Linked DNA regions of Homo sapiens: region 2 is linked to region 1. The links come from fine-mapping of genetic effects on gene expression. Tissue or cell type: fibroblasts. Region 1 holds a variant in brackets; the other region holds the start of a gene. All regions are shown on one strand. Distances are between the middles of the regions.

Region 1 (4,136 bases):
ATTCATCACAAAAAGATCATCGCCTAGGCACATTGTCATCAAGTTAGCTAAAGTTAAGATGAAGGAAAGAATCTTAAAAGCTGTGAGACAAAAGCACCAGGCAACCTATAAAGGAAAACCTATCAGATTAACAGCAGATTTCTCAGGAGAAACCTTACAAACTAGATGGGATTGGAGCCCTATTTTCGGCCTCCTCAAACAAAACAATTATCAACCAAGAATTTTGTATCCAGCAAAACTAATCATCATATACGAAGGAAAGATACAATCTTTTTCAGACAAACAAATGCTGAAAGAATTTGCCAGTACCAAGCCACCACTGTAAGAACTGCTAAAAGGAGCACTAAATCTTGGAACAAATCCTGGAAACACATCAAAACAGAACCTCTTTAAAGCATAAATCACACAGGACCTACAAAACAAAATACAGTTTAAAAAGCAAAAACAAAAAACAAAAAAACCATGGTACATAGGCAACAAATAGCACGATGAATGCAATGGTACCTCACATCTCAATACTAACATTGACTGTAAATGGCCTAAATGTCCCACTTCAAAGATAAAGAACTGCAGAATGGATAAGAACTCACCAACCATCTGCTGCCTTCAGGAGACTCATCTAACACGTAAAGACTCACATAAGCTTAAAGGGGTGGAAAAAGGCATTTCATGCAAGTGGATACCAAAAGCAAGCAGGGGTAGCCATTCTTATATCAGACAAAACACACTTTAAAGAAACAGCAGTTAAAAGAGACAAAGAGGGACATTACATAATGGTAAAAGGCCTTGTCCAACAGGAAAATATCACAGTCCTAAACATATATGCACCTAACACTGGAGCTCACAAATTTATAAAACAATTACTAATAGACCTAAAAAATGAGATAGACAGCAACACAATAATAGTGGGGGACTTCAATACTCCACTGACAGCAGGTCATCAAGACAGAGAGTCTACAAAGAAACAATGGATTTAAACTATACCTTGGAACAAATGAACTTAACAGATATATACAGAACATTTCTTCCAACAACCACAGAATACACATTCTACTCAACAGCGCATGGAACTTTCTCCAAGATAGACTATATGATAGGTCATAAAACAAGCCTCAATAAATTCAAGAAAATTGAAATTATATGAAGCACTCTCTCAAATGACAGTGGAATAAAACTAGAAATCAACTCCAAAAGGAACCCTTGAAACCATGCAAATACATGGAAATTAAACAGCCTGCTCCTGAATGAGCATTGGGTCAAAAACAAAATCAAGGTGGAAATTAAAAACTTCTTCTAACTGAACAACAATAGCAGCACAACCTATCAAAACCTCTGGGATACAGTAAAGGCAATGCTAAGAGGAAAGTTCATAGCCCCTAAAGTTCATACCTACATCAGAAAGTCTGAAAGAACACAAACTGACATTCTAAGGTCCCACCTCAAGGAATTAGAGAAACAAGAACAAACCAAACCCAAACCCAGTAGAAGAAAGAAAACAACCAAGATCAGAGCAGAACTAAATGAAATCGAAACAAACAAACAAAAAGTACAAAAGATAAATGAAACAAAAAGCTGGTTCTTTGAAAAAATAAATAAAATTGATAGACCATTACCAAGATTAACCAAGAAAAGAAGAGAGAAAATCCAAATAACCTCATTAAGAAATGAAACGAGAGCTATTACAACTGACACCACTGAAATACAAAAGATAATTCAAGGCTACTATGAACACCTTTATGCACATAAACTAGAAAACCTAGAAGAGATGGAAAAATTCCTGGAAAAATACAACCCTCCTAGCTTAAATCAGGAAGAATTAGATACCCTAAACAGACCA[G/A]TAACAAGCAGTTGGTAATTCAAACATTACCAACAAAAAGAAGTCCAGGACCAGATGGATTCACAGCAGAATTCTACCAGCATTCAAAGAAGAATTGGGACCAATTCTTTTGACACTATTCCACAACATAGAGAAAGAGGGAACCCATTCTATGAAGCCAGCATCACCCTAATACCAACACCAGGAAAGGATGTAAGCAACAAAGAAAACTATAGACCAATATCTCTGATGAACACAGATGCTAAAATCCTTAATAAAATACTAGCCAATAGAATCCAACAACATATCAGAAAGATAATCCACCATGATCAAGTGGGTTTCATACCAGGGATGCAGGGATGGTTTAACATACACACGTCAATAAATGTGATATACTGCATAAACAGAATTAAAAACAAAAATCACACGATCATCTCAATAGATGCAGAAAAAGCATTTGCCAAAATCCAGCATCGCTTTATGATTAAAACTCTCAGCAAAACTGGCATACAAGGGACATACCTCAGTGTAATAAAAGCCATCTATGACAAACCCACAGCCAACATAATACTGAATGGGAAAAACTGAAAGCATTCCCTCCGAGAACTGGAACAAGACCAGGATGCCCATTCTCACCACTCGTCTTCAACATGGTCCTGGAAGTCCTAGCCACAGCAATCAGACAAGAGGAAAAAATAAAGGGCATCCAAATCGGTAAAGAGGAAGTCAAACTGTCACTGTTTGCTGACCATATGATCGTTTACCTTGAAAACCCTAAAGACTCCTCCAGAAAGCTCCTATAACTGATAAAATAATTCAGAAAAGCTTTCAGATACAAGATTAATGTACACACATCAGTAGTTCTTCTATACACCAACAGCAACCAAGCAGAGAATCAAATCAAGAATCAAACCAAGCACAGAATCAAATCAACCCCTTTTACAATAGCTGCAACAAAAAAATAAAATAAAATACTTACAAATATACCTAAGAAAGGAGGCGAAAGACCTCTACAAGGAAAACTACAAAACACTGCTCAAAGAAATCATAAGACGACACAAACAAATAGAAACACATCCCATGCTCATGGATGGGTAGAATCAATGAAGAATCAATGGGTAGAATCTGTGAAGAATGATGGTGGTATTTTGGTGGGGACTGCCAAAAGCAATCTTCAAATTCAACACAACCCCCACCAAAATACCACCATCATTCTTCACAGAATTAGAAAAAAACCATCCTAAAATTCATATGGAACCAAAAAAGAGTGTACATAGCCAAAGCAAGACTAAGCAAAAAGAACAAATCTGGAGGCATCACACTACCTGATTTCAAACTATACTCTAAGGCCATAGGTACTGGTATAAAAATAGGCACATAGACCAATGGAACAAAATAGAGAACCTGGAAATAAACCCAAATACTTACAGCCAACTAATCTTCAACAAAGCAAACAAAAACATAAAGTGGGGAAAGGATCCCCTTTTCAACAAGTGGTGCTGAGATAATTGGTTAGCCACATGTAAGAGAATGAAACTGGATCCTCATCTCTCACCTTATACAAAAATCAACTCAAGATGCATTAAGGGCTTAAATCTAAGACATGAAACTAAGTAAGTTCTAGAAGATAATGCTGGAAAAACCCTTGTTGTAGACATTGGCCTAGGCCAGGATTTCATGACCAAGAACCCAAAAGCAAATGCAATAAAAAGAAAGATAAATAGTTGGGACTTAATTAAATTAAAGAGCTTTTACACAGCAAAAGGAACAGTCAGCAGAGTAAACAGACAACCCACAGAGTGGGAGAAAATCTTCACAATCTATACATCTGACAAAGGACTAATATCCAGAATCTGTAATAAACTCAAACAAATCAGTAAGAAAAAAACAAACGATCCCATCAAAAAGTGGGCTAAAAACATGAATAGACAATTCTCAAAAGAAAATATACAAATGGCCAAGAAACATATGAAAAAATGCTCAACATCATTAATGATCAGGGAAATGCAAATTAAAACCATAATGTGATACCACCTTACTCCTGCAAGAATGGCCATAATAAAAAAATCAAAAAACAGTAGATGTTGGCGTGGATGCAGTGATCAGAAAAACTTCTACACTGTTGGTGGGAATGTAAACTAGTACAACCACTATGGAAAACAGCGTGGAGATTCCTTGAAGAACTAAAAGTAGAACTACCATTTGATCCAGCAATCCTACTACTGGATATCTACCCAGAGGAAAAGTCGTCATTATACAAAAGAGATACTTGCACAAGCATGTTTACAGCAGCACAATTTGCAATTGCAAAATCTTGGAA
Region 2 (4,136 bases), 85 kb after region 1:
CAGATGCTGTTTCCATGGAGACCTAGTCAACCAAGAAGCCTCACCCCTTGGACTAGCTTCCTGCCTCCATTCACAACCAAAAAAATCAACCAAGGTTCTCCACAGACATCCAGCTCATAAAGGAGGACCTGAGGCTGTCAGTGATTCCCCATGTGATTCATATTCTTGCCTCTCAGTTCTGAGATGTTGGGATAGTATCAACAAGTGCAGAGCCTCTTCCCTGCCACCTTAGGAAGCCTCATACACTTGACCTCACTTCCCCATCGATCCCACAGCCAAAGCAGATACTGCCCTCCGACCTAGCAGCAAGAGCTCCACCTGCACTTCTAAAGCCACTGCTACCTCTGCCCCCCAGGGACCAAATATCCAGAGTTGCTCTCCTTCCCTAAGGCTGGAATATGCCAAGCCCGCTGGCCACCCCTACACATTAAGCCCCCAAGTTCCACCTTCCTCCCAACCAACAGGGCTGAGGCTGGTGGCTCCCAGGCCCACCCTCATGCTCTCCCACTGCCTCTCCACCCACTAGGGCCCAGGCAGAGCTGGTTTCTGGTAAGATGCACTATCTCATCCATGGTTGGGAGGCACAACTTCCTCTTCCAGGGGTTTTCCACTTAGAAATCCCATAAGGGTCTCCTTTCCACAACCCAGTTGGAAATGACCCCAAGCGGAAGTTTCTCCCAAGAAAATTTATAGTCATAATCATAGCGAATTTCCAGTTCACTGAGATCTCACTTTGCACCAGGTGCTTCTCATACATTATTTCATTTAATCCTTTCCACAGTCCTACACAGGAGCAACCCAGTGGAAGGATTCTTTCTCCTGTGGGCAGAGGAGGATTCTCCCCACACTCCTCAGCTCAGCCCCTCCCTTGGCACTCCTTCCCACCCACCCACTAGCTACCAATTAACCCATCAGCACCAGCATTTTGCACAGTTACTAAACAGGAACATGGTCCTGTTCCTCTGCCAGTCCCATCCCCTGGACCTCTCATAACTGTGGGCCAGGTCCCTTCTGTATTCTTCAATTCTCCTAACACTGCAACAGAGATCCATTCCTCTGACCCCTGTACAGCCCCAGATAGGACGAGGCCCACCTCCTGGTCAAAGGTCCTTTCAGTTTCCTCCTAAGCCTGCCCACCTCCTAAGGCTCTACCCAAAGTAACATCACACCCTAAACAACCTCACCTGTCACCAGGCAGTGGAAGGAGTGACCAAGGGCAGCCAGGCCACTCAGACCCCATGGACACCAGCCCTAGCTTTATTCCTTACAGTGGCCCCAGACAACAAAATCTTGGGGAGATCAAAAGTCAGGCTGGACTAAGGGATATTTGGGGCTGATCCTCCAAGGTGTCAAGAAGGGAATTCCATGAAATCAGACCATCAGCCCTGCAACTCTCTCCACATAGTCCAGTCCATTCCGGGACCAACGCCTGCACCCTCAGACAAGGACAACCCAAAAGTGCTCTGCGGCTTTAGGACAGAGCTCACCCTCCCTTGTCCCACGGCCCTGCCCTCTACCAAGTTCTCCAACTCTCTGCTTCTTTAGGCAAGATCCCGCCCCACCAGCAATCCCATGCCCGCCAGATAGTGACTTACCAGCCCAGGCCAGGCCACACAGCACGGCCAATACCAGGGAGATGCAGGCCCTCATGGTGCCCAGTTGGAGGCCAAAAAGGGAGTGGCTGTTGGACTTTCACTAGAGTCAGATGAATGTCACAGCTCTCAGACGAGCCTTATTCCTCAAGCTGATCCTTTTAAAGACACCAGGACTTGTGGAGCTGGTGTCTCCAGATCCTTTCAGGAAGAAAAAGGGGAGGGAGGGACCCTAGATGGATAGGAGGTGGGGCCCTACAGCTGTTTGAAGCCTGAGGGAAGGTGACTAAGAAGGTAGGTAATGCCAGATGTTGAGAACAGGTAATGCTAGCTGTTTGCAGCTTAAAAAATAGGTCATGCAGGCAGGCACACCAAGATGGGTCCAGTTTGGAGGGTTCTTTGTCCAAATTAGGGACACCCATGGGCTGATCTTTGGGTGATCCCCACCAAACAGACACCTACTTCCAAGTCTCAGACCTGACTTTCCAAGGGGCCACAGGTTGGATTCATCTTCAAATTCCTGGAGCTTAGCATGACACTGGCACACAGTAAGGTGATTGGTCCAAATTTGACAAACAGTAAGTGCCCAAGCAAGGGTTGGGGTCATTGGACAGAGAGATAGAGGATGTGTCGGTCAGAACCAGTGCTATTCTTATGACCACCAAGCCCAGCATAGCTAAATCAGCCACATGTCGAGCGCATGGCTAAATCACTCTAAAATATTATGCAAATGACTCTTACTGAGTCAGCCTCTGGGGTTTAAACGTTTCAGATTCCTTATGAGGCAGGGGAGGGGCAAGAGGCCTCTTAAAGGCAGCCGAAGGCCCACTCTTCTTCCCCTGGGAGCCCAGGGTTTCACTCCCTTCACCCCAACTTACACTCCTCTCCTCAGGAACTCCTCCCCAGTGAGGTTCTTTTGTTTCCAAGTCCAAAAGAAGGGGAGCAGCTCCCCGTGACTGTCCAGTTTTCCCCGATAATAAAGGTAAAATCTGCCAAGTATGATGCCCTTGCCAGAAAGAGCACTGCATGGGGATTCTCAACCCTCTCAGGAAAGAAAACTATCATATAAAAAGGCAAAATTGGTGAACAGTGGAGGCCACTCTATCAGTGATTTTTTTCTGGAGGTTGGGAGTGGAGCACGTCTTCATCCAGTGTGCTTTAACAGGAGAAGTTTCTTCCTCTCGCTGGTCTTCAGCTTTCTCATCTGAAATGATGGGGTTGGATCTGACAATCCCTTCCAGGTTCTCAGACTTTAATCTCGAGTTTTCCTGCCCATGCGCCAGGTTGAACAGTTGCTGGTGGGTTAAAGAGAATCCCCCAGCCTGTTGCTGTGTAGAGAGGAGTCCAAACATAGGGACTCAGGGGTAGAGAGAAGGACAAGCCTAGGGCAAGCAAACTTTGCAAGGGGCTCACACAGGAAGTGCAATGTATGTATATATTTTGAGATGGAATCTCTCTCTCTGTCGCCCAGGCTGGAGTGCAGCAGTGTGATCTCGGCTCACTGCAACCTCCATCTCCCCAGCTCAAGCAATTCTCATGCCTCAGCCTCCCGAGTAGCTGGGATTATAGGCATGCACCACCACACCTGGCTAATTTTTGTATTTTTAGTAGAGACCATGTTGGCCAACCTGATCTCAAACTCTTGACCTCAGGTGATCTGCCCACCTTGGCCTCCCAAAGTGCTGGGATTACAGGTGTGAGCCACTGCATCCAGCCCGGAAGCACAACTAAAGAGTGAGCCTAGCCCTTCTCTCCCAGAAGGGAGCTGGTTAGAATGAGTAAGAGCAGAAATGGCTGCTTCATTTGCATAGATTTCATTTACACAATCCAAAAGCAGGCTGAAGAGTCACTGCCCCTCAGAATCCTCATCCTCCCTGGGTTGGCACCACATAAACGTGTCTCTGACTCCTGTTGTTTAGGGGACAAAGGAGGGTGTCACTGGCTGGCCTGGGAAGCAATGATGCCTCAGAATTTGGGAATGAATGGTCTGTCCCTTCCAAGTGTCCAGCTGGGTGGACCCTAGCTGAAGCCAAAGCTGTCAGAGTGGAGTACAGCCTGGCTAGGTTCTCCTAGTGTCCAGCTGAACTGGCCATGGGATGGTGTTTTGAGGGCAGGAGCTCTCCCCCCATTAATGGAATTTTAGGTCAGGAGCAAGGATTGGAGCTGGGGAAGACAGTTAAGGATGACTCCATAGAGCCAGATGGTTCATCTGAGTACCCAAGTGTTTAAAACTGCATCCTTCAATAAGAATAACAGCCTTAACAACCACCAGCAACATTGACTGAGCACTTACCACGTGTGTTATCATATGTGTTATCTCATTGATTCTCACTACAACCTTAATAGGTACTATTGCTGTCCTCATTTTACAGATGAAGAAACTGAGGCACAGAAAGGTTAGGAGACGTGCCCAGAAGCACACAATCATTAAGTTATGCAGCTGTGCCTCAACCCAGATCCATCTGACCAGGGGTCATTCTCATAAGCACCGTTGCTCCATTGCCCCACAACATCACACTTTGAACGACCACTTAATCATGTCTG

Evidence for each region. PIP is the estimated chance that this variant, and not a neighbour inherited with it, causes the effect. A credible set is the group of variants that fine-mapping cannot tell apart.
Region 2: it holds the start of ENDOU, and the variant in region 1 is the best candidate, but not a certain one, in a credible set for the expression of ENDOU in fibroblasts (GTEx, PIP 0.51).

The regions. Positions count from the first base shown.
Region 1 is chr12:47,638,312-47,642,447 of GRCh38, forward strand. No RefSeq gene overlaps it. Among named protein-coding and RNA genes, the nearest start is that of RPAP3, 66 kb to the right of the region's middle. The variant G/A (reference allele first, on the strand shown) is at 1,838.
Region 2 is chr12:47,723,764-47,727,899 of GRCh38, forward strand. ENDOU (endonuclease, poly(U) specific) reads right to left here and starts at 1,727. Exons shown (of 10, transcript NM_001172439.2): 1 at 1,596-1,727. The coding sequence starts at 1,650. All of the region lies in intron 3 of RPAP3-DT (RPAP3 divergent transcript), which reads left to right. RefSeq lists silencers at 2,242-2,361, 3,327-3,386.